Homo sapiens: one gene and its partners. The protein of the gene in region 6 purifies or fractionates together with the protein of the main gene of each other region. This does not show direct contact. Each region holds a gene or a part of one and is shown on either strand. Other genes may lie near its edges. The genes, in order: FAM118B, FADS1, SLC12A9, SLC47A1, SLC12A4, PTH1R and ATP11C.

Region 1 (4,620 bases), on a different chromosome or scaffold from region 6:
ACAGGTTACTACATCTTCACGTTCAAATATCTGTTAAACATCCAGCACTGTGCTAAGAATATTAGTATTGCTGCATCCAGTTCTCCTCCACCAAACACTACATAGCATTGACAGTAAGCCAGGCACTGTTTTCCACACTTCACAAATATCTGCTCTTCTGTGAGGTAGATGCTATTATCATCTCATATCATAAATGGTATAGACAATGAAACAGAAGCACACAGATGTTAAGCAGCTTGTTAAAGGTCACACGACTATTACACATTAGACATGGAGTCAGTGTTCATGTTGTTAAGACACAAAACAATACCATCTCACAAAAACGAACAAGCCGTGGGCCACACTCTTAACAAGTCTACACCTTTGGAGAAACAGAACTATAAACAAACCTTTACAACATGTTTGTGCCAAGTTTCACATGCCTGGATGAGGTACCAAGGAGATGAGCACTTCTGCTTGAGGAAAATCAAGGAAAGCTTTATGGGAGATAAATACCCTTATGGCAAAATTCAATGAAATTGTTGGTGTTTATCCTCCTCTGCCTCCTGAAACACCCAACACTGAAGTCCATCTTGCCTTTTCCTGGTTTTCCTCCCTCCCCTCTAGTGGGAGGTCTTCCCTGTTTCCTAAATGCTGAGGATCCGCAGGGCTCTCCAGTCTATTCCCTTTACATACTCCCTTCCCTTCCCACCCCATTCACCCCTAGATATTAAAATACCAACTAAACGCTAAGGACTCCCAAAACGCTACCTTCAGTTCAGATCTCGGTGGTGCTTCAGGCCCAGGAGATAGCCATGTAAGTTTCAGTCAGGCAGCCCTTCAATATTGAAAGGTACTTTCAGACTGTACTTCAAACTTAAAAACCAAAAAACCGTTCAACAACCTGCTCCTTATCCTAAGTTATACAGATCTCTGAATAGTAGAAATAAGCTATGTGATAATATTTATAGGCCATTATTTCTTTCTTTCTGTTTTAAGCACCAACATATGTATTTACTGATTTTGGAAAAACTGTCATATACTTCAGAATAATGTATTTGGATCATTTCTAAACAAGAGAATATGAACCAAAGGGAACCCAGGGAAGAAAGTAAATCTGTAACCTTAAACTAGCATGATATTCTTTTCAGGATATTCTCTTTTTCCTAATAAAAATTAGCCAAAAATTAATATTGTTTTTCTTTGAGATGGAGTCTTACTCTGTCACCCAGGCTGGAGTGCAGTGGCTTGATCTCAGCTCACTGCAGCCTCTGCCTCCCGGGTTCAAGCTATTCTCCTGCCTCAGGCTCCCAAGTAGCTGGGATTACAGGCCCACGCCACCATGTTTGGCTAATTTTTGTATTTTTAGTAAAGACAGGGTTTCACTATGTTGGCCAGGCTGGTTTCAAACTCCTGGCCTCAAGCGATCCACATGCCTTGGCCTCTCAAAGTGGTGGGATTACAGGCATGAGCCACTGCGCCCGGCCTACTATTCTCTTTGATCTGAAGATGAACTGAGAGCTGAAAAGCACTGTTTAGATCTGAAATAAGAATCTGAAAGCTCTTAAAAAAAAAAAGGCATTATTTGTCACAGAAGCCATCAGAACAACTACAAAGACCAGGTTTCTTAGGAGAAATAGCTCTAAAAACATGGTTTTGCCAAGCAGGTAGCATCAGTCTTTTTTGTTTGAGACAGTCTTGCTCTGTTCCCCAGGACGGCAAGATCATGGTTCACTGCAGCATCAAACTCTGGGGCTCAAGGGATCCTCCTATCTCAGCCTCCTAAGCAGCTGGGACTACAGGTGCGCACCACCACACCTGGCTAATTTTTAAATTTTGTTGTAGAGATGGGCTCTTGCTATGTTGACCAGGCTGATCTTGAACTCCTGGCCTTGTCAAGCAATCCTCTTGCCCTGGCCTCCCAAAGTGTTGGGATTACAGGCATGGGCCACCAAGCCCAGCCAAGCATCAGTCTTAAAAAAAAAGTGGCCAGTGAAAACAATTGAGGGTATTAAAAAAAAAAGAGAGAGAGAGAAAACAGAAAGCAGGTTAGGGAGACTAAAAACATACTTTCATAAGGAAGTGAAGGAGGTCAGTGGAAGACCAAGGAGGACTCTCAGGGAGCAGCCAGAAAGCTGGGCAGCCTGGGCCCAAGGGAGGCAGGTGGAGACTTCATTCAGAAAAAGAGAGCACCTTTCCCCCAGATTTGAAAGTAACAGATCACTGCAGGAAATATGCAGAAAGAGCAAAATGAAGCCCCCCTTCCTCCAACGTGGAGCTAACCACTGCTGACATTCGGATTTATGTGGAGAAAAGCAGTTTTTAAGAGGAACTCTCGGAATAAGTCTGAGTATCTTGGGTTCATGTTCATATCAATTCTAAAAACTTCATTCATTAGAGTTTGCCCCTGCTTTCACACCATAAATCTCCATACATATAAGCCCCCCCTTTAAAAAAAATTCTTCCTTCAATGTCTTATTAAAATTAACTTAAAAAAAAAACTCAAGCAGCTCGAGCTGCTTTTTTTTTTTTTTTAAGTTAATTTTAATAAGTACAGTAGTGCATGTTTTCTGCAGTAGAAGAAAGAAAGAAGCAGTCTATTTCTAGTGGCTGGGGGTAGGGAGGTGCTGGGGAAGAGCAGGAACCTAGGAAGAGTCAGCAGAGGGTAGCCACGCCCCAGCCCCATGGACGAGACTCCTGAGGAATCCATAAAACTGCGAAGTACTAAGTTCTGGCAACAGATCTCAAACCTGCTCCTTAGCAAGAGAGCTAAAAAGAGAGTGTTTCTTATGTACTCTGTTAATTTGACTCTTAAGGCATATAAACAATAGGGAGACCCTGTCTCTACAAAAATAAAAAACTTAGCCAGATGTGGTGGCATATGCCTATGGTCCCAGCTACTTGGGAGGCTGAGGTGGGAGGATTGCTTGAACCCAGGAGGTCGAGGCTGCAGTGAGTCATGATCATGCCCACTCCAGTCTGGGCAACAGAGAGAGACTCTCAAAAAAAAAAAAAAAAAAAAAAAAAAAAAAAAAAAAAAAAGATAAACAAGAGCTGAAGGATAAGCTTCCAAAATAAACGAGGAAAACAAGAAATCTGTGCTTTTCCTTATGTGATATTCCTGTGCTGCATTCCATGACACTAAGAATATAAAACATGATAACTTCTGTCCTTACGTGTTTACTTCTTAATCTTTTTCAAAGTACGCTATTAAAATGGCAACAGAGGAGTTTTTCTTTTTTCAAGGTATAAAACCAAGAATGTGAGGTGCAGGAGATAAGCATTCAATTTTTCAATGAATTTTTGGAGATGGAAAGCAAGCTTTAAATGCAGATCTGAAAATACGGATTGGCATAAAGTCTATTTAACTAATGCGCAAATTCTCTTCCTCACCTCCTATTTTCATCTATTTTCTCCACCCCCAAATCCAGAGGTTTAAAGAAAAATGAACCGAAATCTGAAATGGGTCTGGAGTAAAATACATCAGCAGGAGCAATGAAGAACTGAAAATACAGATTATGTCAAAAGATGCATACTAAAAGGTTCTCCAAGCCTCCATCCTTGTCCCAGCAACCAATGCACTGTCAGCTAAAGAAATATTAGCAAACATATACATTTGTACAAACATACACACAAAATCCATATATACCAGCCACCCTATAGTAATGGCCACCACCCAACAAGACCCACGCTGGGAACTTAAAATAACAAAAAACAAAACAGAAATGAACAGTCAGAATCATGAGACATTCAAAGAAATCCCACAATAAAATAATTCATTTATTCCTTAAGTTATTAAGCATCTATTCATCGCCAGGCACTGTTTCAGAGGCTGGAATTATAGAGGTAAACAAAAAAAAACCCAAAATCCCTGCCCTCATAGAATGTTTATTTTAGTGGTGAGGGAAACAAGTAAATAAATATGTGGGATGCTAGATGGTGGGAAATGCTTCTGGAGAGAAACAAAGCAGGGAAGTGAGATGGGGGTCTGCACTTCTCAATCCAGTGCTCTCTTCACTGAGGTGACATTTAAGGAAAGACTTGTGGATTCATCCAAAGTGAGGTGTGGGAGCAAGTCGCTGGATATCTGAGGGAAGACACATCCAGACAGAGGCACAGGTGCAAAGGCCCACATCACCTGAAGGAAGTGGAGCCTGTGCAGAGAGGAAGAAAACTCAAATACTCCAGCGGGCCCTCTGAGCCCACCATATCCACATAACAAGAATGGATATTACAAAAAGGTATCAAAGAAAAATTAAAGATTGAGCAAAAAATCACAGAAATAGTACAAGAAAACATCCCGGAACTAGAGGACGTGAATTTCCAGAATCAAAACCGTCTGTGAGAAGCCAGCACAACAGCTGAGTAAAAGACCCATACCCTGGTGTTAATACACATCATAAAACTGCAGAACACCAGAGATAGAGAATATCCTCAAAGCTTCCAGAAGGGGAGAAAACAAACAAAATACGGTCACGTAAGAAGGATTTAAATCACCACATCTCTAGAGCAATTACAGATGCCTTCAACATTCTGAGAGAACCTTATTTCCAATCTAGAATTATATAACTGCCAAACTATCAAACAAGTGTGTGGGCAAAACCAGGTCATTCAAATACTTCTTAGAAATAACTGAAGTAT
Region 2 (4,620 bases), on a different chromosome or scaffold from region 6:
AGGGGTTGAGTGCTCCTCTTGTGCCCTTGTGGTTGTCTGGTTACCTGAACTAATTGGAGTGCGATGCAGACATAGTCATGGAGTGAGACAGCAGAACTTTGCTGTCTTGTTTGTGAGCCCACATCAGGGGTTCTAGACTGGCTGGTTGACATGGTGGCCCCAGCCTGTCTCTTCAGCAGCTCGGCTTATAAAAAATAACCACCACCTACTGGGGAAAACTGCTGGAACCTTCAGATTGCCAAATTGTTCTTGGTGTCTTTTCCAGAAATATTTGCCAAACTCGAATTAGCCTTCAGGAGATTTGATAAAGCTCATGTTTAAGTCAAGAGACCAAAAGATTTTGATGGGGAGAATTAGGGGCTGGATATAGAGGGAATACTTAACCTGTATAGGGGCAGATATGGTTGTCCATGGAGATTCTGGTGTGAAAAAGTACGATGGCGGCCGGGCGCACTGCCTCACACCTGTAATCCCAGCACTCTGGGAGGCTGAGGTGGGTGGATCACCTGAGGTTGGGAGTTCAAGACCAGCCTGAACAACATGGAGAAACCCCATCTCTACTAAAAATACAAAATTAGCTGGGCGTGGAGGCACATGCCTGTAATCCTAGCTACTTGGGAGGCTGAGGCAGGAGAATCGCTTGAACCCAGGGAGGCAGAAGTTGTGGTAAGCCAAGATCGTGCCATTGCACTCCAGCCTGGGCAACAAGAGCGAGACTCCGTCTAAAAAATAAACAAAAAAGTACGATGGGAGAAAGGGGAGAGGGCAGTGGGGCCTGGAAACCTCATGACAAAGAGAATGAACACAAGAGGGCCTGTGGTCCTGTAGACTCTGTGCTGTGCACATCCCTCATGTGAGCATGGGCCATCCAGCTGCAGGCCATGGTGTGACACACTCTGCAGATTACAGTCTAGGGCTTCATGTTCCATGTGCTGGAGGTAAGGCTGGGCCTCTTGGAGCTTTCCAATAGCACCAACAAGCTGTCAGCCCTGGAGGAGGCCTAAACCTCCAAGCAAGGAAAGGTCAAGTCACAGAGGGAGGAATCACTGGTCTCCGAATGCTCATGTGTTTGCTTTTCTTCACAGCTTGGGAAACAGAAGAAAAAATATATGCCGTACAACCACCAGCACAAATACTTCTTCCTAAGTGAGTGTCCCCATCCAACACAGGGGAGCTGCCTCAGGAGGGAATGCTGAGGGAATGAGGAGGATGTGGCTGTCCAAGGGATTATGGTATTTTAAGGAAAGGGGCTAGAGGAAGTACCCCACTCCCACCCCCAGTTACTCCCTGCATGACAGCAGTTTGCCATCTCAGCTGAGCGAAGTGAAGTTAGGCTGATGATTGGTTGAAGGCAAACTAGTTCTTCCCATCCAACCCCAGTTTCCACTGGGAAGCTGGGTGTTTGGGGTGTAGAGGGGCCTCTTGCTTTATCCTCAACCTTATCTTTTTTTTTTTTTTTTTGAGACGGAGTCTTGCTCTGTCGCCCAGGCCGGACTGCGGACTGCAGTGGCGCAATCTCGGCTCACTGCAAGCTCTCCGCTTCCCGGGTTCACGCCATTCTCCTGCCTCAGCCTCCCGAGTAGCTGGGATTACAGGCACCCGCCACCGCGCCCGGCTAATTTTTTGTATTTTTAGTAGAGACGGGGTTTCACCTTGTTAGCCAGGATGGTCTCGATCTCCTGACCTCATGATCCACCCGCCTCGGCCTCCCAAAGTGCTGGGATTACAGGCGTGAGCCACCGCGCCCGGCCCCTCAACCTTATCTTAAACTTTGTCAAGATGGGCCAAGGTAACCTGGTAGAGCCCAGTCCAACCCCCAGAGGAACAAAGGTACAGATAGTTCTGGAAGGATGGGTCCTGAGGAGAGAATGGAAGAGCTGTTAGAACGAAGAAGATCTTTCTGATGACTGCCACATATTCCCAGCTTTAAAAGTCTGTCCCAGCTACTAAGGAAACTGAGGTGGGACCATCCTTTGAGCCCAGGAATTTGGGGCTGCAGTAAGCTCCGATTGTGCCACTGCACTCCAGCCTGGGCAACAGAGTGAGATCTTGTTTCTTAAAACAACAACAACTCTGCTCCATAATGCCTAAAATGAGCTTTAAACGCCTTTAAATTTTCAAATTTTTTAAAGAAGGAAGGGAAGGAGTCCACTGATCTTATTTTAGTTTGAAGGAATTCATCCTAACTGCCTATCACCAACTATCACGAATAGAGAAAGGCGATGGGGCAGAAGGGTAGAGCAGAGACCTCTGGAAGAAATAGTTTTAGAATCCATGGCACATCAAGATGGAGGAGCCATGGGTGAGCATTGTCATGCTAGGAGTTATGGGTAGCATCAGGTGCCACAGAGAAGGGCTACAGAAAAGGAAATGAGGAAGCATGTAGAATGCAACACTTCTTCAACTCCCAGTTTTCTTTCAAGAGAGGCCCCTCTGTTCCGTCCCACAGCTGACCTCCAGGGCTTCAGATTGGGGTGGCACAAGCCCATCTCCCTAGTTTAAGGAAGTGAGCTTCACAGCCTGTGAAGGATCCACAGGGTCCCTCCCAACACACACACACTTTCCTGCTCCTGCCCCTTCACCTGCATGGTGGAGCTGCCAGGAACAAAGGGCAGATGACTGTAGGGACAGGGCTGTGGCCAAGGTAAGTAAGAGAGTATTAGCACCCTTTTAAAAGTGTGGGATCCTTGGAGTGTGTATGTAGAAAAGAGAAGAAAAATGAAAAATAATAAAGGTGTGGGAGCAGAGCAAGTCCCATGCGTGGGGCCTGAGTTCCCAAGCACCTGTCACTGAAGAGTGCCACTCGCACCCCTCACCTTCCCTGGCATCCTCTTGGGAGTTTTTGCCTTCCCCAGACTTGGATTTATGCCCACCTTCAGTGCCTGCTGGTTCCAGTGGATTGCAGAGCACTCAAGCACCTGGAGGGGAGACAGAAGGGATGGTTGGAAGAGGCAGCCCCCTGCTAGAGGCCATCTCTCCCAACATCAACTGGCCCTTTCATGACCTTCCTGTGCTCATGCCTCCTCTTTGTCTCGGTTTCCTCCCCAGTTGGGCCCCCAGCCTTGCTGCCTCTCTACTTCCAGTGGTATATTTTCTATTTTGTTATCCAGCGAAAGAAGTGGGTGGTGAGTATCCATGGCCCAAGAAGCCCACATCCTTGTCTCCAGCACCCAGAGTGGGGGATAGGGGTTCCCCAGGGGAAACTTGAGACTGACTCTAGGCCTAATTTAGAACAAAATAATAGAACCAGACACAGATCCTCCTTATCTCTAAGTGGGACGAAATGATTTGAGCTTAGCAGGCAGCCTGATTCCCAATGTGTAATTTCATGCGGTCAGTGTCTCCAGAGGTTCTTGTACTGGGCATAATGCCAGGGGGCTGAGTTGGGAATGGGGAAGATGAATGAGAGACAATACCTACTTTCAAGGAAACTTCTGATGAAGCAGAATGTGGTTATTAATCAGAAAAGAGGTACAGGCAATAGGTTCTGGGGACTCCAAAAGGGGCCTGACTGCACCTGGCTTTGTGAAGTCACTTTTCTAGCTGGCCTTGAGGCTGGGCAGGGTTTCTGACAGGCAGAGGTGGAGCAGGGGGGATGAACTCTGAGCAGAGAAGCTGGAAATGAGGGGTAAGTTTGACCACCAGACATATTGTGGAGGACTAGTGTCAGGGGAAGAGTATGGTGCTTGGTTCAGTGATGAGAGATTTGATCAGGGCACTGGCATGGACTGAGCCATGGTCCTGGCAGATTCATTTGGCGGCATGCTGAAGGATTTAGATTGGCTAGGAAGAGCTAGAGGCAAAGAGACCTTGTAGGCCTTGGTACTTTTGAAGGGGACATGCAAGAAGGGCTGGGGGGTGCCAATGGGAATGGAAGAAAGGAGCAGTGGCACTAGATACTGCAGGATTGGACCCCTGAGAAGCTGAAGATGAGTGAGTCTGGATAACCAGGAGAATGGCTGCACCATGCAAACAAAGAGCTGCTGAGAGGAAGAGGAAGAGTTGTTCGTGACTGTTATGCTCGCTGCTTTTCTCACTATAGGACTTGGCCTGGATGATTACCTTCTACGTCCGCTTCTTCCTCACTTATGTGCCACTATTGGGGCTGAAAGCCTTCCTGGGCCTTTTCTTCATAGTCAGGTAGTATTCGGTGGGGGCGGATAGGGACTGGTGAAGGAAATGTTGGGGAGTGACCAGTCTGGTCTAGGGGCCGTGCTGGGGCTTTGGGTAACAGTGGGTGTTTCAGGAGTTGGCTTGGGAAAGTAGACAGGCTGGAGCAGTTATCTGAGGGGGGAATCAGAATTCTGGGCTCTGTGTGTACTGTTTTTGTCTGTGTAATACATCTAACAGGTTCCTGGAAAGCAACTGGTTTGTGTGGGTGACACAGATGAACCATATTCCCATGCACATTGATCATGACCGGAACATGGACTGGGTTTCCACCCAGGTAAGGGACAGTCACTCAGAAGACTGGAGCATAACACAACTATTGAAAAGGATGCGTAGGTGAAAACAGCAAAAACAAAAAGTCCCCCAAACAGCATTTTCTCATTAGCCTGAGGCTCTTGTTCTGCAACCATGTGAAGGGAGTGACCAAGACAGTCTCATGTCCCTTCCTCA
Region 3 (3,519 bases), on a different chromosome or scaffold from region 6:
GACCAACGTGTTGGGCTTCATGCCACCTGGGGGCAGAGCGGGGAAGGCAGGAACAGACAGGAGTCAGGCTCACAGGCTAAGTTTACACCACGCTCCCACACACTGACAGCAAGGTGCGTCAGCCATAGGTATGACATTCCCACTGTGTACGGGCTCTTACGGCAACATTCTGCATATTTGCATAAAGACTTTTCATTTTTCCTAAACACTTTCACATGCATTTATTTTATTATCTCAGTGACTAATCTCCTCCACTTAAACAGGCAAAGTTCGCCTTAGGATTCTTGCCACTAATGAGCACTCCAATTCTATGGAGAGGAGGATGCTGTCCACTCCCGGCTTCTAGCGGGGCATCTGTTTCACGGCAGGGGATGCGAGTTTGACTCTGTTGTGCAAACCAGACACCCTGATCAGCCAAGCTCATGACCTGAATCCCCAGGGTAATAGCGTCCCAGACTCTGCAATGGGAAGATGAAAAAATGGACCAGGCAGGGCACCGTGGCTCACACCTGTAATCGCAGCATCTTGGGAAGCTGAGGCACGTTGATCACCTGAGATCAGGAGTTTGAGACCAGCCTGGCCAATACGGTGAAATGCTATCTCTACTAAAAATACAAAAATTAGCCGGGCATTGTGGTGGGCATCTATAATCCCAGCTACTCAGGAGGCTGAGACATGAGAATTGCCTGAACCCGGAAGGTGGTGGTTGTAGTAAGCCGAGATCACGCCACTGCACTCCAGCCTGGGCAACAGAGCGAGACTCCATCTCAAAAAAAAAGAAAAAAAGAAACAGGGCTACCCCGTATGTTTACTGCAGTAAACCCTAACCCTAGTAGGTTTTACCAAAACCCTAATCATGGTGGTTCATTGCATGGTATCCGCTTACCAGGGGCTATGTCCTGTAGAAAGCACTTTATATTTTAACTTATTTGAAACTCGAAGTAATGCTATGAGGTAGGTAATATTTAGTCTCCTCTTTTTACTGATAAGGAGCCCAAAGCACCAAGGGATGAAGTCACTTGCCCATAGGCTCATATCTGGTAGGTACTGGGGCAGGTAGGTCAACGCAATCCGCCTCCATCCAGCGTGAGAGGCCACACTCTGAGCCACCGAGCTGGGCACGTGGCAACCACAATGCTCCAAGTCCCTGCTGACAAGCTCTTCGTTCTTAATTTTTGAACAACCCTTGTGGAATCGGATAATTGCTGAGTTTACAGGGAGACGCAGAGACCTCTTCCAAGACCCCTTCTCATGAAACAAACACTGCTCAAGCCATAAATCAAATTTTCTATGACAGGAGAATCCACCATTTAAAGGAACTACTTTTCCTTTTATTGGAATAGGTTGGTGCAAAAGTAATTGTGGTTCTTTTTTTCCCCCATTAAAATGGCATCCCAGCACTTTGGGAGGCTGAGGCAGGCGGATCACCTGAGGTTGGAAGTTCGAGATCAGCCTGGGCAATATGGTGAAACCCCGTCTCTACCAAAAATATACAAAAATTAGCCGGACAATGCTGGCGTATATCTGTAGTCCCAGCTACTTGGGAGGCTGAGATGGGAGAATACTTGAACCCGGGAGGCAGAGGTTGCAGTGAGCTGACATTGTGCCACTGCACTCCAGCCTGGGCAACAGAGTGAGACCCTGTCCAAAAAAAAAAAAAAAAAAAGGCAAAAACCGCAATTGCTTTTGCACCGACCTGATATCTTCCACAGGAAAAATTTCGTATTTCATAAGCATTGTGGTCTCTGCACAAAAAGTGAAGACCAGGCTCTCAGATGTTCTGTGGGTCAATGATGCTTGACGACACCCCAAAACATCTCCGCAGGTGTGAATTCCAGCTGATCTTGCAAAATAAACTAGTCATGCCCCCTCCTCAGTATTTCCCAGGGTTCTGATTTACACTGAACTGGGCAATGTCCAACACTGTTGAACTTTAGCCAGACTCTGAATAGAGAAGGAAGCATGCACTTTGGTGACGGGCACTGGTCCAGGATTAAGGGAAAAGGCAGTGACTGAGCATAGATAACCCTGGTGGCCTCAGCGCTAAAAGCTGAGAATTTACCGCTCCATCCACAGACGTCCGCCCCACACAGCCTCCGGCATCCTTTGTGGCTTTGGGTGGCGGGGGCAGGGGAGACATGTTACATCTCCTACATCCCAACCTCTTTCAAAGTCTGGATGAATTACCATCTCTCCGCAAAACCTTTGCTGGCCACATCAGTGTATAGTGGCTGGCCTGCCTTCCTCTGAACACTGGTGGTTAAAAACCATCTGATTTGATGAGGCAGCTGGAGATTCAAATAATGCTCCATTGTCTCCAAAAATACACTCTTCAGTGCCTATGCCCCAATTTTTGGATCAGAAAAAAAAAGAAGGAAAGGCTGGGCACAGTGGTACATGCCTGTAATCCCAGCACTTTGGGAGGCCGAGGCGGGTAGATCACCTGAGGTCAGGAGCTCGACACTGGCCTGGGCAACATGGTGAAACCCCCATCTCTACTAAAAATACAAAAATTAGCCAGGTATGGTAGCACATGCCTATAGTCCCAGATATTTGGGAGGCTAAGACAGGAGAATCACTTGAACCTGGGAGGTGGAGGAGGCAGTGAGCCAAGATCGTGCCACTGTACTCCAGCCTGGGCAAGACAGAGTGAGACTCCGTCTCAAAAAAAAAAAAAAAAAAGAAGAAGGAAAAAAAACCCACAACATCGCCCACCCCATCACTAGTCCCTAGCATCTCCTATTAGACCTTATCACACACTGTCTGAGGCTATTATCTTTGAGCACTGTCTTATCTCCTCTCGACTATAAGGTCCTTTTGCAGTTTGCAATCTGTGGCTGACTCTCTAGGGGAGGGGAGCGGAGATTTGAAGTGGCCACAGAGGAAGGCCGAGGGCATCCAGGGAGAAGCAGCTCACCGAGGCCGGAGATTCGCAGCAGATGCTGAGCCCCCTGGCGCACGGAGGGTGAGAGGGTTAGATCCACAAAAGCCTTCACCTGGGCACGGTCCACCAGGCTGAGCCATGCCCCATACTGCGGCTGTACAGGGTCCGAGGGCAGGGAGTCTACAGAGAAGATAAGGAAAGGAAGGTAGCCAGTGTTGTCCAAACTCAATGTCTCCTAGAGTCCAAATCACAGACGGGCCTGGGCAGGGCTATGGCTACTTGGAGGGGTCATGGGAAAGGATAAAAGGGGCAGAGGGGCTGGTGTCGGGGCTCATGCCTGTAATCCCTGCCCTTTGGGAAGCCAAGGTGGGAGGGCTGCTTGAGCCAGGAGTTCCAGACAGCCTGGGAAACATAAAGAGACCTCATCTCTACAAATGAGCCAGGCCTGGTGGCACACACCTGTAGTCCCAGCTACTCAGGAGGCCAAGGCAGGAGGATTACTTGAGCCCAAGAGGTTGAGGCTGCAGTGAACTATGATGGCACCACTGCTCTCCAGCCTGGGTGACAGAGCAAGACCTTGTCTCAAAAAAAAGCGGGGGAGGGGTTCTGGCCGTGGTGGCTCACACCTACAATTC
Region 4 (4,620 bases), on a different chromosome or scaffold from region 6:
TGTAGTCAATGTACTGCACATTTTGAATTAACTAAGTAAATTTCAAATGTCTCACCATAAAAAATAAGTGGTGATAAGTATGTTAATTAGCTTAATTTAATCATTCCACATTTTATACATATATCAAAACACCACACTGTACCCCATAAATGTATACAACTATAATTTGTCAATTTAAAGTTTAAAAGATATAATATAGAGAATTTAAATTATTTCCTTAATATTTTATACTGATTGCACGTTGCAATAATTTTAGACATATTGTGTTACATAAAATACATTACTTTAAAAATAAAAATAAATTAGATTTCTATAATATTTGCATTAGCTAGGCAATTGGCAAATCCAAACTATGAATCGCACCAGAAACTCAGCTAAATAATTTTCTGCACTATCATGCAAGCCCAATGAACTTTGCATTGGCAATACTATTCTTTGAACAACTCCTGTATTTTTAATTAAAATATTATTGAACTTGAGAAAAATGTGCCACATAAAGGAACATACTGAACTGGAAGTTCCCTGTAGGTATCAGTTGACTTCTCACCACCTCTGAGCCTGCCAAGTACAGATGAATCAAAACAAGCCACGCTTTAAGTCAGTCACTACTCACCCCAAAGATAAATGTCCAGGTTTTCATATCATCATTTATTAACTGCCAATATGTTCCAAATTATTATTTTAGAAATCAAAGCTGGGCAGTCATTTATTTCCGTACTTTTTAAAAAGATTAGCTCTGGTAATTTCAGATGCTGTGGATTAAGTTTTTTCTTCCAAATGTGGGAAGGTGCTCAAGTCCGCCCCCTTCCTTCTGTGCTGTTCACACCGACCACGTGTATGGCCTTGTGGGGAGCTCTGTGGGGGCACAGAGCTAAGGCTGCACAAGGAGGGAGGTGGAGGCTGCGGAGTGCGATGAGGGTGATGAGAAGGGCACTGGCCACCCATTGCCCTCCAAGGATCCAGCCATGCTGCTTGGTGAGCACATGGGGCACTGCTCTAGGATGCAGAGTGCCACCGTGAGTGCAGACCCTGCAGCACCCCACGCACGCAGGACCGCCTACGATAGCCCTGGCCCTGCAGAGTCACCCTCAGGGGCTCACATGCTGTCTCTAAAGAACAGCACGAAACACACTAAGGGGATGCTTCCAAATGCTTCTTCAGCGGTCCCTGCTGTTGCCTCCTTTAGAGAAGTGAGGGCTGGATGACTCAGGATAGGAGGTTGGTAGAAAGGGCATCTGTGCTCAAGTGTGTCAGCGTGGAAGATCGCCCGCAGGGGTGTGAGGGGCAGGACCACATAGCCTTGGGGCCCTGGCTAGAGCTGGAGGTCACCTCCTGAACGCCCCCTACACTCTCTGACAAGACACAGAATGGACGTGGGCGAGCTCCCGAGTTTCAGAGGTGAGCCTCAGTCAAAGACCCGTGTGCTCCGACGGTCATTTCCTGGGCTGGTGAGCAGCTAAGCCCTGCCTGCAGAGGTTAGAGCTTACCCATCACTCCAAGTGTGGTTGCAAACATCAGCGCGATCCCGATGGGGAGGCCAACCACATAGTACCCAATGGTATTCACAATGGCTCCAACCTTCTGATTTCCACTCCCCCTCAGAACACCACCACTCGTGCACTGCAGGCAGAGAGCATTCCATCACTGTGAACACATCCGGCGCTCTTGAAACACTCCCATCTCCCGAGCACTTCATATTCTGTGCTAAAATCCATGGTAAGGTGACAGTATCCTTCTAAACGAAATGTGGTAACAATATTCAATCTTCCTACCTATGCTGGCCCCTCCTCTCAGCTGAAATTTACCACCATCAGAAGATCATAACAGTGCTTAGGGGACTACTACATAATACTTACAGCAAGAGCTTCAAAGAGGTGGGAAACAGCATAAATTGGAACCACCTGAGCCACCAGATTAATGATGTCTCTGTTAGGAAAATAAAGCACGTGGTGATTAGGAGACAAAGTGGAGAAAGAAGTATATAGCTTTCTGGCTAGGCGCAGTGGCTCATGCCTGTAATCTCAGCACTTTGGGAGGCTGAGGCGGGAGGATCACCTGAGGTCAGGAGTTTGAGACCAGCCTGGCCAACATGGTGAAACCCCGTATCTACTAAAAATATAAAATTAGCCAGGCCTGGTGGTGGGTACCTGTAATCCCAGCTACTCAGGAGGCTGAGGCAGGAGAATCGCTTGAACCCGGGAGGCAGAGGTTGCAGTGAGCTGAGATCTCATCACTGCACTTCAGCCTGAATGACAGAGCGAGACTGTCTTAAAAAAAAAAGTATATAGCTTTCTGCATATTACAGACATGCACATGCATTGAGGCCAGCAGCCTAGTCAGGGACAGTTCACCTGTTGCTGGGTCCATAGAGGAAACTAACTGCATGTTGTATCTCACAGCTTTTAGAAAAAATAGGCAGCACCACACCCTTGTCTTCAAGAGATATGTTTCAAGTCCCCCAGTGGATGCCTGAAATCGCAGAGAGGACTGAACCCTAAATACATTGTGTTTTCCTTATACACAAATACATTATGATAATGTTAATTCATAATTTGGGCACAGTAAGAGAGTAACAACAGTAGTAATAAAGTAGGCCATAACCACATGCCAGCATCACTACTTTTGTGCTTTGGGATTACTAGCACTGTGATACCAAAACAGTCAATCTGAAATAACTAGCGGGTGGAAAGCACACACAGCGTGGAGATGTTGGACAAAGGGATGATTTCATGTCCCAGGCGGGACGTGAGATTTCCTCCTAATACTCATAACCGCACGCAATTGAAAACTTATGAATTGTTTATTTCTGGAATTTTCCACTTAAGATTTTCAGACCACCAGGCACGGTGGCTCACGCCTGTAATTCCAGCACTTTGGGAGGCCGAGGCGGGCGGATCACAAGGTCAGGAGATCGAGACCATCCTGGCTAACATGGTGAAACCCCGTCTCTACTAAAAATACAAAAAAATTAGCCGGGCGTGGTGGCGGGCGCCTGTAGTCCCAGCTGCTGGGGAGGCTGAGACAGGAGAATGGCGTGAACCTGGGAGGCAGAGCTCGCAGTGAGCTGAGATCATGCCACTGCACTCCAGCCTGGGCGACAGAGCGAGAGTCCATCTCAAAAAAAAAAAAAAAAAAAAAGATTTTCAGACCAAAATTGACTGCAGGTGACTAAACCTTGGAAAGCAAAACCAAGGATAAAGAGGGGTTACCGCATAGTCCATCTGGTCAGTGTAGACAAATCAAGGGATTTGGTGACATCCCTCCCCCGTTCCCCATCAGCTGAAAAGAAGTTTGGCTGGGCACAGTGGCACGCACCTATCATCCCGGCAAGTTTGGATGCTATGATCATCCTTCTTTTAAGATGATGCCACAGGCCAAGTCTGACTGTGTCTCCTAGTAAGCCTCAGTGAAGCACTACAGAGTAAAAATTAAGTTCCCTCTATGGAACGAAGGTTGGTAAAGGCCATAGATATATTCTGCAGAATTATCCTTGGTTCCTAGAAATGGAACCCCTAAAGCTAGAGACTTGGATTCTAACCTCTGCATGTGAAGGGAGATGAGAAAAATGCTGCCCTGACCTGGGGAAGCAGGAAATTCACAACACCCTTGGAGTGAGTTTTGTCACTCTAAACTAGAACCTAGAAGACTGTCTCCCAATAAATACTTGTTTAATTACTAAATAAGAAATCCAGCACTGGCCCAGGAGTGGTGGCTCATGCCTGTAATCCCTGCACTTTGGGAGGCCAAGGCAGGCAGATCACCTGAGGTGGTGAGTTCGAGACCAGCCTGACCAACATGGAGAACTCCCATCTCTTCTAAAAATACAAAATTAGCAGGTGTGGTGGTGCATGCCTGTAATCCCAGCTACTCGGGAGGCTGAGGCAGGAGAATCACTTGAAACCAGGAGGCGGAGATTGCGATGAGCCGAGATCGTGCCATTGCACTCCAGCCTGGGCAACAAGAGCGAAACTCCATCTCAAAAAAAAGAAAAGAAAAGAAATCCAGCACTGAACAAGATGATCACTTCCTCCTCACCAAAAAGGACAGAAATATAATTATTTTATTCAAATTTTATTTTTTGAATAGGTAACATGCACATGGTCAAAAAATGGAACAATATGAACAAGATAGTAAGCAAAGTCTTACTGCAATGCCCTTCCAGTTTGCCCCAGTACCAGCCCTGCCTCCTCCAGGTAACAATTCCTAGCACGTTCCATGTTTGTCTAGTGTCTATGAAAATATAAGCAAATACAAATGTATATTCTTAATTTTCCTTTCTATATTCTATCATTTCACATGCAGCATTCTCTATATGATGTTCTGCACCTTGCTTTTTCCACCTGAGATATTATATTCACTTTTTTTTTTAGACAGGGTCTCACTGTCACCCAGGCTGGAGTGGAGTGATGCAATCATGGCTCACTGCAGCCTCAACCTCTCAGGCTCAAGTGATCCTCCCACCTCAGCTTCTTGAGTAGCTAGGACTACAGGTGCACACCACCATGCCCAGCTAAATTTTATTTTTTGTAGAGATGGGGTTTCGCCATGTTTCCCAGGCTGGTCTTGAACTCCTGGGCTCAAGTGATCCTTTTGCCTCAGTCTCCCAAAGTGTTGGGATTA
Region 5 (4,620 bases), on a different chromosome or scaffold from region 6:
CTGAGCTCAGGCAGTCCACCCATCTCAGCCTCCCAAAATGCTGGGATTACAGATGTGGGCCACTGCACCCGGCCTTTTTTTAAAAATGTATATTTTTATCATTTCCTTTTTTTAGTAGAGACGGGGTCTCGCCATGTTGCCCAGACTGGTCTGGAACTCCTGAGCTCAAGCAATCCACTCACCCCAGCCTCCCAAAATGCTGGGCTTACAGGCATGAGCCACCACGCCCAGCCAAGATTGACTCTTTGAAAGAATTTCTTGATCCCTGTTCCCAGATTTTCACCAGAGACATTGTCTCAGCAGCAGATACAACCAGCAACATGAGATGACTCTTGTCCCCCTGTGCTTGTCACCCTGGGGCCTGGTCATGACTCTCTGAGTCTTTTAAGGGTGTTAGACTTTGATAGAAGCACAGATTCAGGGCAGGGAGCCGTGGACACTCACCTGGTGGCAGGCACTGTGCGGGGCCTTAGGGCCAAAAGGCTGGATGAGACAGTCCCTCCTCTGGTCTGGAGGAGTCAGACTAACAAAGGCACAGGCCTCAGGAGGGTGAGGTGGGCTGAGATAGGACACACCCAGCCAGAGGAGGCTGTGGGCTGTGCACAGGGCATTGGAGGATGGTGGCCAGTCAGCCACTGCTGCAGACTAGAGCTGCTCCCGCAAAGCAGTTATTTCCACGGGCCGTGCTGGACATTCGAGTCAGATGGGGATAGGATCGAATGTCAGCCTAGATGCTTACCCACCGTGCAGCCCTGGGTAGGTCTCCCAGCCCCTCTACTCATCCACAAACAGGAAAAGCAGTCCCTGTCCCTCTGGGTGGTTGTGCAGGCTTGTCACAGGGAGACCCCTTGAAGAAGAACCAGCCTTGACCTGTGCACACTTTCATTTCTCTGCTGTAGCTGGGGGCTCCTATTTCATGATCTCTCGTTCACTGGGGCCAGAATTTGGAGGTGCTGTGGGCCTGTGCTTCTACCTGGGAACAACATTCGCAGCAGCCATGTACATCCTGGGGGCCATCGAGATCTTGCTGGTGAGTCAGGCTGAGCCCTGGCCAACTCTGGCCATGTCCAAACAGTCCCTTTGGACTCCAAACAGAAGGCTCAGGCTGTTCATCCCCACATGTCTGGCCAAGGCCTGGGTATTATAAAGTAGGAAGCCTCTTCGAGAGACAAAGACCTTTACTCAGGCTGGTCTTCCTTTCACCTCCATGCCAGTTTGGGCCAGGCAAGGCAGAGGCCTGGCTGCCTTCACCTCGGCCCTGGATGTTCCATCCACCTGGGCACCATTGCAGCCATGGCAAGGGTTCCAGGAACTGTTGTATTCAGCTCAGTGACAGATCTTGGTGGTGATGTAGGCTTCCTTCTGGGCTTGTGTGAGCTCTGGCCAGCTCTGTGTCCTCCGGGGCTCTGTGCCAGGGCACTTCAGATCCACCTTCTCCTTGTCCTTCAATCAGGGTAAGCAGCCACAGAACCCTGCTGGAGGTCGGCGCTCCCTCCACGAGCCCCATGGGAGCTCTGTCAGCCTCAGCTTCTCATTCCCCAGTGAACTGCCGTACCAGTGGGAGAAGAGGCAAGGAGCTGCGGGAGGCATGGGGTGACAGGTGCCCGCCCCTGGGGATCCAGAGGGTAGGAGATACCTGGAGGGACTGCCTGGCTGTTCTTGTCTCCAGGTCCTCTACCTGCAGCAGGACCCTGCACCTGAATCTTCTGATTTGGGGGGGCTTTGGCTTGTTTTCATTTCTCATATCCCTTCTACATTCATTATGTGGGATTTGTCCCTTCTCCTGTTTATCTATTCAGCCATGTCATTATATCTGTATGGACTTCTGGATATTTACTTTATTCTTTGGGTTGTAATCCAATACTATCATTATTTATTTTCTTGCTCAAACTGTTCCACTTTGGCTATTTAACGATTCAGGTTGGCATCTATGTTTGGATCCTTTTTGTTTGCTTGTTTTTAAGTAACAGCTTTATTAACATATAATTTACATACCATGCAATTCCCATACCAATTTATATACCATTGAAAGTGTACAATTCAATGTTTTATAGTATATTCACAGAGTTGCGCAGTCAATTCTAGAACATTTTCATCATCCCAAGAACCCCCATTAGCAGTCACTCTCCATTCCCCGCCAGCCCTGGCAACCAGGAATCTGCTTTCTGCCTTGGGATTTGCCTATTCTGGGCATCTCATATAAACAGAATCATATAATATGTGACCTTTTGTGACTGGCTTCTTTTAGGTACTCTTATTTTTTATTTTTATTTATTTATTTGTTTTGAGATGCAGTCTCACTCTGTCGCCCAAGCTGGAGTGCAGTGGCATGATCACAGCTCACTGCAATTTCCGCCTCCTGGGTTCAAGTGATTCTCCTGCCTCAGCCTCCCGAGTAGCTGGGATTACAGGCTCATGCCACCACGCCCAGCTAATTTTTTGTATTTTAGTAGAGATGAGGTTTCACCAAGTTGCCTGGGGTTGTCTCGAACTCTTGAGCTCAGGCAGTCGGCCTCCCAGAGTGCTGGGATTATAGGCATGAGCCATTGCGCCCGGCCTATTCATTTATTTTTTTGAGACAAGGTCTCACTCTGTCACCCAGACTGGAGTGCCGTGGTGTGGTCTCTACTCACTGCAACCACCACCTCCGAGACTGAAGTGATTCTCCTGCCTCAGCCTCCCGAGTAGCTGGGATTACAGGCGTGTGCCACTACTACCAGTTTTTGCACCACTAATTTTTGTATTTTTAGTAGAGATGAGGTTTCACCATGTTGGCCAGGCTGGTCTCAAACTCCTGACCTCAAGTGATCCACCGCCTCAGCCTCCCAAAGTGCTGGGATTACAGGCGTGAGCCACGGCGCTGACCTATTTTTTATTTTTTTTTGAGACGGAGTCCCCCTCTGTCACCCAGGCTGGAGTGCAGTGGTGCGATCTCTGCTCACTGCAACCTCTGCTTCCTGGATTCAGGCGATCCTCCTGCCTCAGCCTCCAGTTGCTGGGATTACAGGCACGTGCCACCACGCCCGGCTAATTTTTAGTAGAGATGGCGTTTCCCCATGTTGGCCAGGCTAGTCATGATCTCCTGACCTCAAGTGATCCCCCACCTCAGCCTCCCAAAGTGCTGGGATTACAGGCGTGAGCCACTGCGCCCGGCCTCTTTTAGGTACTCGTAAAAAGAAAACCAAAACGACAAGTTTCACTTTCCAAATAAGAAATAAAACCCTCCTTATCCATCTTCTTGTTTCAGACCTACATTGCCCCACCAGCTGCCATTTTTTACCCATCGGGTGCTCATGACACGTCGAATGCCACTTTGAACAATATGCGTGTGTATGGGACCATTTTCCTGACCTTCATGACCCTGGTGGTGTTTGTGGGGGTCAAGTATGTGAACAAATTTGCCTCGCTCTTCCTGGCCTGTGTGATCATCTCCATCCTCTCCATCTATGCTGGGGGCATAAAGTCTATATTTGACCCTCCCGTGTTTCCGTAAGTAACCCAGGAATTTATCTGGGCATTGCATGGACATCCCTCCCATGTAGCCAGCCTTTGATGCCCCAGATCCCAGAGACTGCAGGGTGGGCACAGGCAGGGGCTTTGACCTGAGCAGGTGCCGGTGCTTCTGTCCCTCACAGGGTATGCATGCTGGGCAACAGGACCCTGTCCCGGGACCAGTTTGACATCTGTGCCAAGACAGCTGTAGTGGACAATGAGACAGTGGCCACCCAGCTATGGAGTTTCTTCTGCCACAGCCCCAACCTTACGACCGACTCCTGTGACCCCTACTTCATGCTCAACAATGTGACCGAGATCCCTGGCATCCCCGGGGCAGCTGCTGGTGTGCTCCAGGGTGGGTCCTCCCTCCCGTCGTCTTGCTCTTGAGCCCACAGGCTGAGCAGGGGCACAGAGCACAGAGCTGTCCTTGTGTGGCCAGCTTGGGAACGGGGGCAGGACTGGCCGCCTTCCCAGCCCCCCAGTGTCCTCCCAGCCTGGCTCCTGGCAGCCGAGTTTGGAGTGAGTGGAGCCTGTCTGGCCAGCGTCCAAGGCCTGCAGCAGCCTGTCTTCCCCAGCCACCAGCCCCTGACACTGCCTGGGGATGTTCCCACAGGATCCATAAAGGCCTCTGTGGAAGGCGGGCAGTGGCGGGCTCTGGGTGACGGTGGTTCAGCCACCTTTGTCTGTCGACTTCTAGCTGGGCAGCTCCTTCTCTGTGGTCAGGGTAGCCCTGTGGCTGACGCTGCAGTCATTGGGCTGAAGCTGTTCCCTGAGTCCCCAAAGTTGCCCTGCATCTGCGCCTCTGGCTAGGCTGCCCCAAACTACCTGGGGTAGTGGGGGGCAGCTGTGGTGGTGACACAGCTACCCCTGCAGAAAACCTGTGGAGCGCCTACCTGGAGAAGGGTGACATCGTGGAGAAGCATGGGCTGCCCTCCGCAGATGCCCCGAGCCTGAAGGAGAGCCTGCCTCTGTACGTGGTCGCTGACATCGCCACATCCTTCACCGTGCTGGTCGGCATCTTCTTCCCTTCTGTAACAGGTGAGCCCTGCCTGCCTACCCACCCAGCCCTGTCCCCAATCCCGGGGAGCCCCTGAGGGAGTCTCATCTGTTTTTGGAGGCATCATG
Region 6 (3,699 bases):
TCCAATCTGAGAGGAGAGGCCCACCTCCACCTGGGGGGGCACCCAGTCTGAGGGGGAAGCCACAGCCCTGTTGCGGGGTGCCCAGTCTGAATGCTTCTAGGTGAGTGGGCCTCATTGGCTTATTACTTCAGAAACCTCAGTTCAGACCCTAGAGAGTGGCATCGGACATCCCTGGGGAGGAGGATGAGGGTCTGCCCTGCTGAGGTCTCCTTCCCCCAGCTAACTCTTGCTGCCCTCCCTGTCACCATCTCCCTGCGAGGCCACCCGCCTCCTGCCAGGCCACCTCTTCTCCAACCCCTGTGCAGCCTCCTCTCGTCTCCACATTGCTGTGGGGACTTTTTAAACATTCAGACCTTGTTGCTCTCCCTCTTGAACTTCCAGTGGCTCCCAGCCTGGCTCTGCAGCCCTTCAAGACTGGCCTATGCCTCCCTCAACCATTGCATGGAGCTCCACGGGTGCACCAGGCCCTTGGACAGCCTTTGGTCCTGTCCGTCATCTGGAAGGGCAGGCAGGGCTGGGTGTGGGGCTGCTCAGCAGGCACCCACACCTCCTAACGCCCACCTGAGTTTTTTGTCTTGGGCCTCCTGACCCCTCCCCTATGCCCTATGGGGTGTGTGTGGGCTGCTGGAGATGAGGTGCACTCCTGGATGCCGAGTCCGTGGAGAAGAGTAAGACGGGCTGAGCGGGAGATGGGAAGGCAGGGCAGGGCTCGTGCGGGGCTGTCTTTAGGCTGGAGCAAGAGCAAGAAGCTCGTTCAGGCCAGAGCCCGGGGTGGGCATGCTGTAGGGTCAGTCCTCAGGGTGTCGGGCTGAGGGGCTCTGTGCCACTCTGGGGCCCACGAATGGCCCAAGGTGGGAGAGGGCACGGTCCGGGGGGGTGAGTAAGGTGGTAGGTGGGTGTCAGGTGAGGACACTTAGTGACTGTCCCAGATGCATAGTGAATGGATGTGTCCCACCTTGCAGGCCCCTGCCCAGCCAGCCCTCTGGGCTCAGACTCCTGGCTCCCCACAAGTCCTGAGCCAGAGCAGGGACCCAGCCCACCCTTCACCTGCTGGCCTGGTGCTCCTACTGCAACCTCAGTCACAGAGGCATGTCAGGTCACGGGTGGATGCTAAGGCTCCTGCGTGGAGGGCTCCCTGAGTGGCCACTGGACAGCCAGGAAAGGTCCATTCTGTGGCAGGGCCGTAGGCTTGGGGGTGTGGCCAGGGACCCGAGGGATCTGCCAGCAGCCCTGGGTGGCAGTGATGGGGGCAGCAGTCAGAAGAGTTGGCCCAGAGGAGCCTGGGTCCCCCATGGGGTCTAGGTACAAGTGTGGAGAGCAGCTCCACAGCTGGCAGCAACGGAGGCTGAGGCTGGATTTCCACATGGGTCCACTTGGCTGCTGTGTGACCCCTGCAGACTTGAGCCACTCTGGGCCCTTTCTGCTGGATACCACAGGCCCCAGATCCCTCCCCATTCTGAAGTGAGACCTGAGGATTCCTCCATGACTCATGGCCCTCCCGCCACAGCTTTCCCTGGCTCCCAGCCCCACCCTCTCGGAGTGAGTCCCCAGTTTGGGCCACAGGAAGCCACACACCGCTTCCTTTTCCTTTTTCTTTTTTTTTTCTTTTTTTCCCTGTTTTTCCTCTTGGCCCCAGCCCTGAGTGGGAAATCATTCAACCACCCATCTTTTGGTCCATCTGTCCATCCACTATGTCAGCAGGTCCAGCCCCCAGCGCCTGGTCACATGACTGTCTCCCACTCTTCCTGTAGCAGGGCAGGTGGCCGCTCAGGCCCAGAGGCCTCCTCGTCCAGGCCTGAGCAGGAGCCGTTGAGGAACCCATCGTCCTTGGGAGCAGCCATGGCAGGTGGTGTGGTCTCGAGGGTCTCCAGGGCTGGGGTCCCTGGCTTGGCATGGCCAGGCAGCTGAGGGTGGCCGTTGGTGGTGGCAGTGGGCAGTAGGCGGGGGCTGAGGGGCAGGCCGAGTCCCACACGGGGGCCGACATTGGTCACACTTGTGTGGGACACCATGGGGCCGTAGCTATAGCTGCTGCTCCCGCTGCGTGCCTTTCGCTTGAAGTCCAGTGCCAGTGTCCAGCGGCTCCAAGATTTCTTGATCTCAGCTTGTACCTTGGGGCAGTAAGGGTGCGGCAGTCAGGTGTGTCTCCCAACCCCAGCGATGCCCCATCCCGGCCCCTGGACACCCAGCACGGAATGAAAATGGGAATAGGGGACTCCTGGGAAACTCCAAGGCCAAGTGAAATCCCATCCTCACAACAGGGTGTTTGGCTACAGGCAGCCGACACACCCAGAATCTACAAGGCTCAAATTGCCCCAAAGGTGGCTGAGTCCTCCAATCTGGGTCACAGATAATTGAACCATGGGGCTGGGAAGACACTTGGCTATGCCAGTGACTGAAGAGTCCCCACATCCTAGCACATCCTGAACCTGCATCATCTGGAAAGACTTCTCTGCTTTCAGAATGTCCTCAGGGGTGTTCTTGGAGGAACAAAGAAATAACAGGGTGGAAGAATGGAGAAATGAGCCTTGAGGAAGCCTCTGGGGTATCTGCCCCACCCTGCCCTATGCCAACACTGTCTCCTGCTTACCTCGCCATTGCAGAAACAGTATATGATTGCGACAAAAAATCCCTGTGAAGAGGGGTGTCTCGAATCAGGCCTGCCCCCGGAACCCCTCCCACCCTCAGCCAGGCCCGGGCCAGCACTGCGCACCTGGAAGGAGTTGAAGAGCATCTCATAGTGCATCTGGACTTGCCAGAGCGTCCCTGAGACCTCGGTGTATGGTGTGGCCATGAAGACAATGTAGTGGACGCCAAAGAGGGGCATGAGCACCAGCGTGGATTTGAGCAGCTTCCTGGGCCAGCGGGGCAGGTAGGTCAGGGCCAAGCCACTTCCCCTTCAACAAGCATTGTGCCACCCCCCACCCTGCGAGCCCCAGGCTCCGGAAGCTCAAAGGGGCCCAGGGCTCCAGTCACCATGGGAGGACAACCCAGTTCACCTGCATGGCTGCTGTCCTGGCTAAGTGCTAATAGGGCCCGTTGGTTCTCAGCGGTGTCCCGGAGCGGACTTCAAATGACAGTCCCCCTGTCCCTGGGCCCTTCGCACCTGTGGAGCCCTCAGCTGGCAAGCACTCCCCTCCACGGTCGAACCTCACTATCCCACAGTCCGCTCCTCAGGTTTCAGCTGAGCTGCAGCCTTCCCGGGGCCACTCACCGCCTACCTGTTCCTCAGACCCCCTGCAACCAACTCTTTGAGGAGAGGTTCAAGTTCGTTGCACACTCACAGACTCCAGCTCTAGTGCAGGGCCTGGTACAAGTGGGCAGGCTGGCTTTGGGGTGCCCTAGGGCCTCCCATCACTGCTGGGCAGGCCAGGTGGGTGAGGACAGCCAGGGAGTCAGACGCTGGGTCCTTTCCCTTGCCCCAGGATCATTCATGGGGCCACTGTCTTTCCTGGGGTACATGGTACCAGGACTCAGGGACCCCTGAGGAGCCAGGGCATGGCAGGCATGGTGGGCTCACCGGTACTGCTGCCGTGTGTCACACCGGCCGGCGTTGGTCTCCCGCAGCTTGGTGGCGAGCACCCGGACGATATTGATGAAGAGGATGAAGTTGAGCTGTGGGAGTGAGGGGGCTGCGTCTGGAGGCTGCACCCTAGTGGGGCGGGGCAAGGCCTGGCAGCCACGGCCATAGGCTCTGCTCTG
Region 7 (4,620 bases), on a different chromosome or scaffold from region 6:
TTCAGGTAGCTCTGCAGGGTCATGGTGACTCTAACCAAAATAAGGTTGCCATTCATACTGAGAATGTAACTCACATTGAGGAGTTAGGTAGTTTCCTTACCAACCAAGGAACAAACTAGATGCCTAAACTAGCTGCTAATTATTGTCTTTGGAGGAGAAATAATGCCACATGAAAATCTATTCCTGGAAGAAATAACTACATTAAAAATAAGACAATTGTTTTTAAAAAATACTTCCTCAGTTCTATGTTAGACATTGTAGGAGATAAGGCCCTGGAGAGGCCAAAAGCAACAGCAGTGTCTTCTATCCAGCCCAGTCCCCCAAACCACAGACCAAGCTAAAGAGAGCAATCCAGGGGGATACAAAATTAGCCAGAAACAATATAGCTAAAATGCATCACACAGCTTAGAACGAGGCAATCTGGGACAAAGGGGTCAAAGACCTTGAAGGTTACTTGTGAAGCAGATTCATTACTAAGGGAAAACATACTCAGGTAAGTTGTTCAAAAATGGGTAAAAAGATGCTAACTGTGGCAAAATGAGTCTGCTTCTAAAATAACAGTGCAGATGTAGACTGCGATGAACTCCAGGAAGACAGAAGAACCAATGGAGTCAATCCATTAATTTAACTTGTATTCTTTGCTAGAGGGTGGCAGAGTTGACAGCTGTTGAAAAAAATGGGCCTATAAGGTGGACTCGCAATTATTAGCTTCAAAGTGAACTAACCCACAATTGTATTCATGATGATCATTAATTTTTATGTGTGCATGAAAGATGGCCCTGCTTTAAGCTGTGTAGAGTTGTTTCCAAGCTGACAAGCTTGGAAGCCTTGTTCATTAATTACTCTAAATTCCTATGGATGGATAAAAGACCTCCAGAGGTCTGAGTTGTTAAAGGCCCCCACTGAAGGAAATACAGACTATACATAAAGGAGTCATTCTGAGTTCAAGGGGCCCTCCCACGGCGTATCAATTCCTCCCAAATATTTTTGGGGGTAAATGAAACATTATAAAGTGAATTTAATCATTTTTGGAAACATTAATTATAAAGCATTTTATATCATTAGGCAAGCATCCCCCTGAATGGCTATGAAATATTTTACCTCTGAAAGTTGAAACATTTAGCTTGAATAAAACTTGACATTAAAAAAGTTATGATTAGACTGGTTCATTGATATATATTTGGAGATCAGACATTTACAAGGACATAAGTGTATACAGTACCTGCAAACACACAGACACAGCACATGAAGGTACAAACACATTTAGTTATTTTCACATAATTCCCAAGAGAACATGCAATGCTAAATTGGCTTGATATTATACAGATGCAATTTTGGAATATTTACTTTTAGTTTTCCAAATGATCTTTATAAATCAAAGTTATATTTCCTGATCAATATTAACAAACATTTTCACATGGTGGCCTTGCCATGACAACTTGCCCCTTACAAATTAAATATGCTGTATCAACATTTGGCTCTGAAAAATGTTTAACATTTTATTTGGGGGGCTTATCATATTTTAATGTTTAATATTTTAAATGCATATTTCCCCATATTCCAAGTAATGCATCTTTATATTTTTGCAAAGAATATTGTAAAGTTCACCACACCAACAGCAGAGAAAATTTAGAGAGTGATATTTTCATTTTTTCTTTATAATGCTGTTAATCCGATTTTTTAAAGCCAGCCCATTTGTTTAACACTAGGTACCTGTTACAATACATTAGATTCGTCTGAGAATGTTCGTAAAAGAAGAGGTCTGACTGAAGGTCTGGCGGATAATGAGTCAGATGCCCTTCTACAGCTCAGATTTCTCTGTAATAGTGAGGCAAAGATACTTAAAGCATTTGAAAATTGGTTAACCTACCTGGTGATTATATATTTAAAAAAAGGTAAAAGAAAAAAATCATTTCCTATAGACTACTCCTCTGGCCAAAAGTACAAATGATTACACTATATAGTAAATGTATAACATTCAAATGAATACATTCAAAGGCCTAAGAAAGTCTCCAACTCGAATTGTTTTTGTGGTAGAAGTAAACAGACAACAGTAGTATGTAGTAAACTTGGGTTTTTGGAATGGCACTGGTAAGTAATATGGTAAGATGAGTCAATATGGTTTGATTAGTAAACCTTACCATCCTTTTGGTGAACACCTCTGAGAGTTGTGCCGGTGCCGTATTATCAAACAAAGAGAAATTTGTGCAAAACATTCCTGTCCTGGTGAACAGACTAGCTCTAACACGCCATGGCCACTGCATACCGTGGATCAATGAAGACTACAGACCCGTAGTCCAAGCTTTTAAAAATTACTTCCTCTCCAGTGTGACAATTTGGAAGGTGAACACATGATTAAAAGAAAATGACAAAATACTCTAAGCATCAATAGAAGATATAAAATGAGTCATGAGAAGTAATTTTTCATAAAGAATTAGAAAATGGTGTCAGGCAAATGAGAATGCAAGCAAGTTGGTACATTAAGAAAGGAAATCACCTTATTCACTCCAAGAGAAACTGTGATTGCTGGAAGTTTGAGAAAGCATGAAGATAGCAGATGTTCCTGAGGAAGGGAGGCGTTTCGTTACCTTGTTCACAATTGCACAAAAGGTGGAAAATTGCAGTAGAAAAAAGAGAAATGCAGAAACCAAAAAAAAAAAAAAAGTAAATAATCTCTCAAATGTAAGACATTTAAAAAGAAAACTTGAGAATTCGAAGCCGAAATGATATGTTAGTTTTGAAGACATTATTTTCTGAAGTAAAAGCAGAGTCAGAGATAGGAATAGTCTATTATTACGTGCCAACTACTATTTCTCTACATATCAATTTGAAATTATTTTGTTAATGGGAAAATTGACTATTTTAAATAAAATAGCTTTAAAATATGCTTCTCGTTAAAATAAGACTTATCTCTAATCATTAATTCACTATCCTACATTTGTTCAAAATCCATTGGTCAAAGAGTTATGTCCAGGGTCCATTGCCAATCACCAATCTATCTTGAAGTAATTATCTCCCCTATGCAACTGTACAGATACACTATGAAGGGACTGACTGCTCTTAAGCAGTTGCAGGATAAAAACTTAATCAAAAATAACAATGGGAAAACATTTGGTGATACCACATTTCAGTCCCATTTGCCTCTGACCAATGCTTAACTTCCTTTCTTACAACCTAATTTGATTGGTTTCCCTGTTTTTCCTACAGAGTCCTCTTTAGAAAGATAGGCTAAATTTTACCTGGGTAAGGTATTATTTTTTTTCCCCTTAAAACACCCAGAAAAGTGAAAATGGATAAAGTTTAACTGGCAAACCTAAGGTTATTTTTTTCCTTCTGATTCTGTGCCTGAAATTATAAGGTAATTTACAGACTCAGTTTTGGCATTGCCCAAGCAAAACAGAAGATGAGTGGTCAACAATGTGGATGACTTGAACAACTCTGCTAATAAAGATTACCCATATTGTCTACTTAGTGACCTAAAATGGGCTTAGAAAAAGAAACCAGCTAAAGTAACATTTGTTTCCAGAAGATTCTAATAAACAATTAAACTTTCAAAGGTAAATAATTTATTCATGTTTTGACAACTACATTTTTTCTTGTTTTTACCTTAAATGAAGAAAGTTGGTGGAATGAAGAAAGTTGATAGACATATTGATAGAATGCAAATTACCAATTGATAAAGCTAGAGAATATTTAGATTCTGAGAAAAAGATTTTAATTGTTTCTATCTTCTATTTTATGGGCAAAAACCCTGCGACAAGATCAGCATGATACCAAGTTCCCCACCCCCGTGTTTAATGCACAAACCTATCTATTCAAGACTGCAACTGTAAGCACGTTTTGGTGTGCTCAAACACTTGTATCCAACCATCGGAGATAAAAGTATTTCTATGAAGCAGAAATATTAGGAGTTAATAGATTAGGTGTTAAAACTACTTTATAAAGGAAATGAAAGTACAGAAAGCAGGAGAAAGCATGGAAAGAGTAACTAAAGCAATAAAAAAATTGATATAGCTAGCAACCGGCAGTGGGGTGGGGTAAACAGGAGATAATGAGCTAAAACAGAATGAAATTTCCACATTCCTTTGCAGTCATCTAGAGAGCTTTGACACCAGCTCAATTAGCAGTATGTCAAAGAGGCCAATGGATAAAGGCCCATCTCAACAGCCACGACATTAGGATTAAACTTTATTTTTGTCTAATCCAGCTAACAGGGCTATTGCCCTGTGAACCCATGGTTGTATATGACACTGTAAGAATCATAATAGTAATCATCATTATTATAATGATTAACTATATTCTCCAAAATTTCCAAAATGCTTTCTCTGGGACTTTGGCTCAGACAGTTGACATTCTTCCCTTCCCTGTCTACCACTCTGAAAGAGTTCTCTACATAATGGAATATTTCTTCCTGTTTGTGCTGACATCCCATGCTAAGCACGGCCATGTTGCTGGGTGCATTCCCATTAAATTATAGTCTTCCTTTGTCAAGCTTCAGCGAAGTTAAGCCTCCTTTTTGATTGTGGTGACTTACATGAGAAAACTTCACACAGGATATGTGGAAATTTCTCCATTGGAAATGTGAAATGGTATTTGCTACTTGGCCAGAAACTCCAGATA

What was found.
Region 1: the proteins of PTH1R (region 6) and FAM118B purify together in Homo sapiens (affinity purification with mass spectrometry; 2 studies listed by BioGRID and IntAct, with this or other methods). This does not show direct contact.
Region 2: the proteins of PTH1R (region 6) and FADS1 purify together in Homo sapiens (affinity purification with mass spectrometry; 2 studies listed by BioGRID and IntAct, with this or other methods). This does not show direct contact.
Region 3: the proteins of PTH1R (region 6) and SLC12A9 purify together in Homo sapiens (affinity purification with mass spectrometry; 2 studies listed by BioGRID and IntAct, with this or other methods). This does not show direct contact.
Region 4: the proteins of PTH1R (region 6) and SLC47A1 purify together in Homo sapiens (affinity purification with mass spectrometry; 2 studies listed by BioGRID and IntAct, with this or other methods). This does not show direct contact.
Region 5: the proteins of PTH1R (region 6) and SLC12A4 purify together in Homo sapiens (affinity purification with mass spectrometry; 2 studies listed by BioGRID and IntAct, with this or other methods). This does not show direct contact.
Region 7: the proteins of PTH1R (region 6) and ATP11C purify together in Homo sapiens (affinity purification with mass spectrometry; 2 studies listed by BioGRID and IntAct, with this or other methods). This does not show direct contact.

Annotation. Positions count from the first base shown.
Region 1 is NC_000011.10:126,217,751-126,222,370, reverse strand, and holds part of FAM118B (protein FAM118B), read right to left. Parts: intron 1-4,620. UniProt on the Homo sapiens protein: May play a role in Cajal bodies formation.
Region 2 is NC_000011.10:61,803,190-61,807,809, reverse strand, and holds part of FADS1 (acyl-CoA (8-3)-desaturase), read left to right. Parts: intron 1-1,085; coding exon 1,086-1,146; intron 1,147-3,048; coding exon 3,049-3,125; intron 3,126-4,042; coding exon 4,043-4,140; intron 4,141-4,350; coding exon 4,351-4,447; intron 4,448-4,620.
Region 3 is NC_000007.14:100,862,226-100,865,744, reverse strand, and holds part of SLC12A9 (solute carrier family 12 member 9), read right to left. Parts: intron 3,065-3,519; coding exon 2,918-3,064; intron 459-2,917; coding exon of another isoform or gene 421-458; exon of another isoform or gene 386-420; coding exon of another isoform or gene 360-385; exon of another isoform or gene 196-359; intron 27-195; coding exon 1-26. UniProt on the Homo sapiens protein: May be an inhibitor of SLC12A1. Seems to correspond to a subunit of a multimeric transport system and thus, additional subunits may be required for its function. May play a role in lysosomal ion flux and osmoregulation.
Region 4 is NC_000017.11:19,564,096-19,568,715, reverse strand, and holds part of SLC47A1 (multidrug and toxin extrusion protein 1), read right to left. Parts: intron 4,194-4,620; exon of another isoform or gene 4,087-4,193; intron 1,927-4,086; coding exon 1,857-1,926; intron 1,621-1,856; coding exon 1,488-1,620; intron 1-1,487.
Region 5 is NC_000016.10:67,951,053-67,955,672, reverse strand, and holds part of SLC12A4 (solute carrier family 12 member 4), read left to right. Parts: intron 1-899; coding exon 900-1,030; intron 1,031-3,247; coding exon 3,248-3,489; intron 3,490-3,635; coding exon 3,636-3,850; intron 3,851-4,368; coding exon 4,369-4,533; intron 4,534-4,612; coding exon 4,613-4,620. UniProt on the Homo sapiens protein: Mediates electroneutral potassium-chloride cotransport when activated by cell swelling. May contribute to cell volume homeostasis in single cells. May be involved in the regulation of basolateral Cl(-) exit in NaCl absorbing epithelia.
Region 6 is NC_000003.12:46,901,679-46,905,377, reverse strand, and holds the end of PTH1R (parathyroid hormone/parathyroid hormone-related peptide receptor precursor), read right to left. Parts: intron 3,613-3,699; coding exon 3,518-3,612; intron 2,853-3,517; coding exon 2,711-2,852; intron 2,630-2,710; coding exon 2,588-2,629; intron 2,109-2,587; coding exon 1,722-2,108; 3' UTR 1,579-1,721; downstream 1-1,578.
Region 7 is NC_000023.11:139,729,938-139,734,557, forward strand, and holds part of ATP11C (phospholipid-transporting ATPase IG), read right to left. Parts: intron 2,589-4,620; coding exon of another isoform or gene 2,499-2,588; exon of another isoform or gene 2,498-2,498; intron 1,819-2,497; coding exon 1,717-1,818; 3' UTR 1,714-1,716; intron 1-1,713. UniProt on the Homo sapiens protein: Catalytic component of a P4-ATPase flippase complex which catalyzes the hydrolysis of ATP coupled to the transport of aminophospholipids, phosphatidylserines (PS) and phosphatidylethanolamines (PE), from the outer to the inner leaflet of the plasma membrane.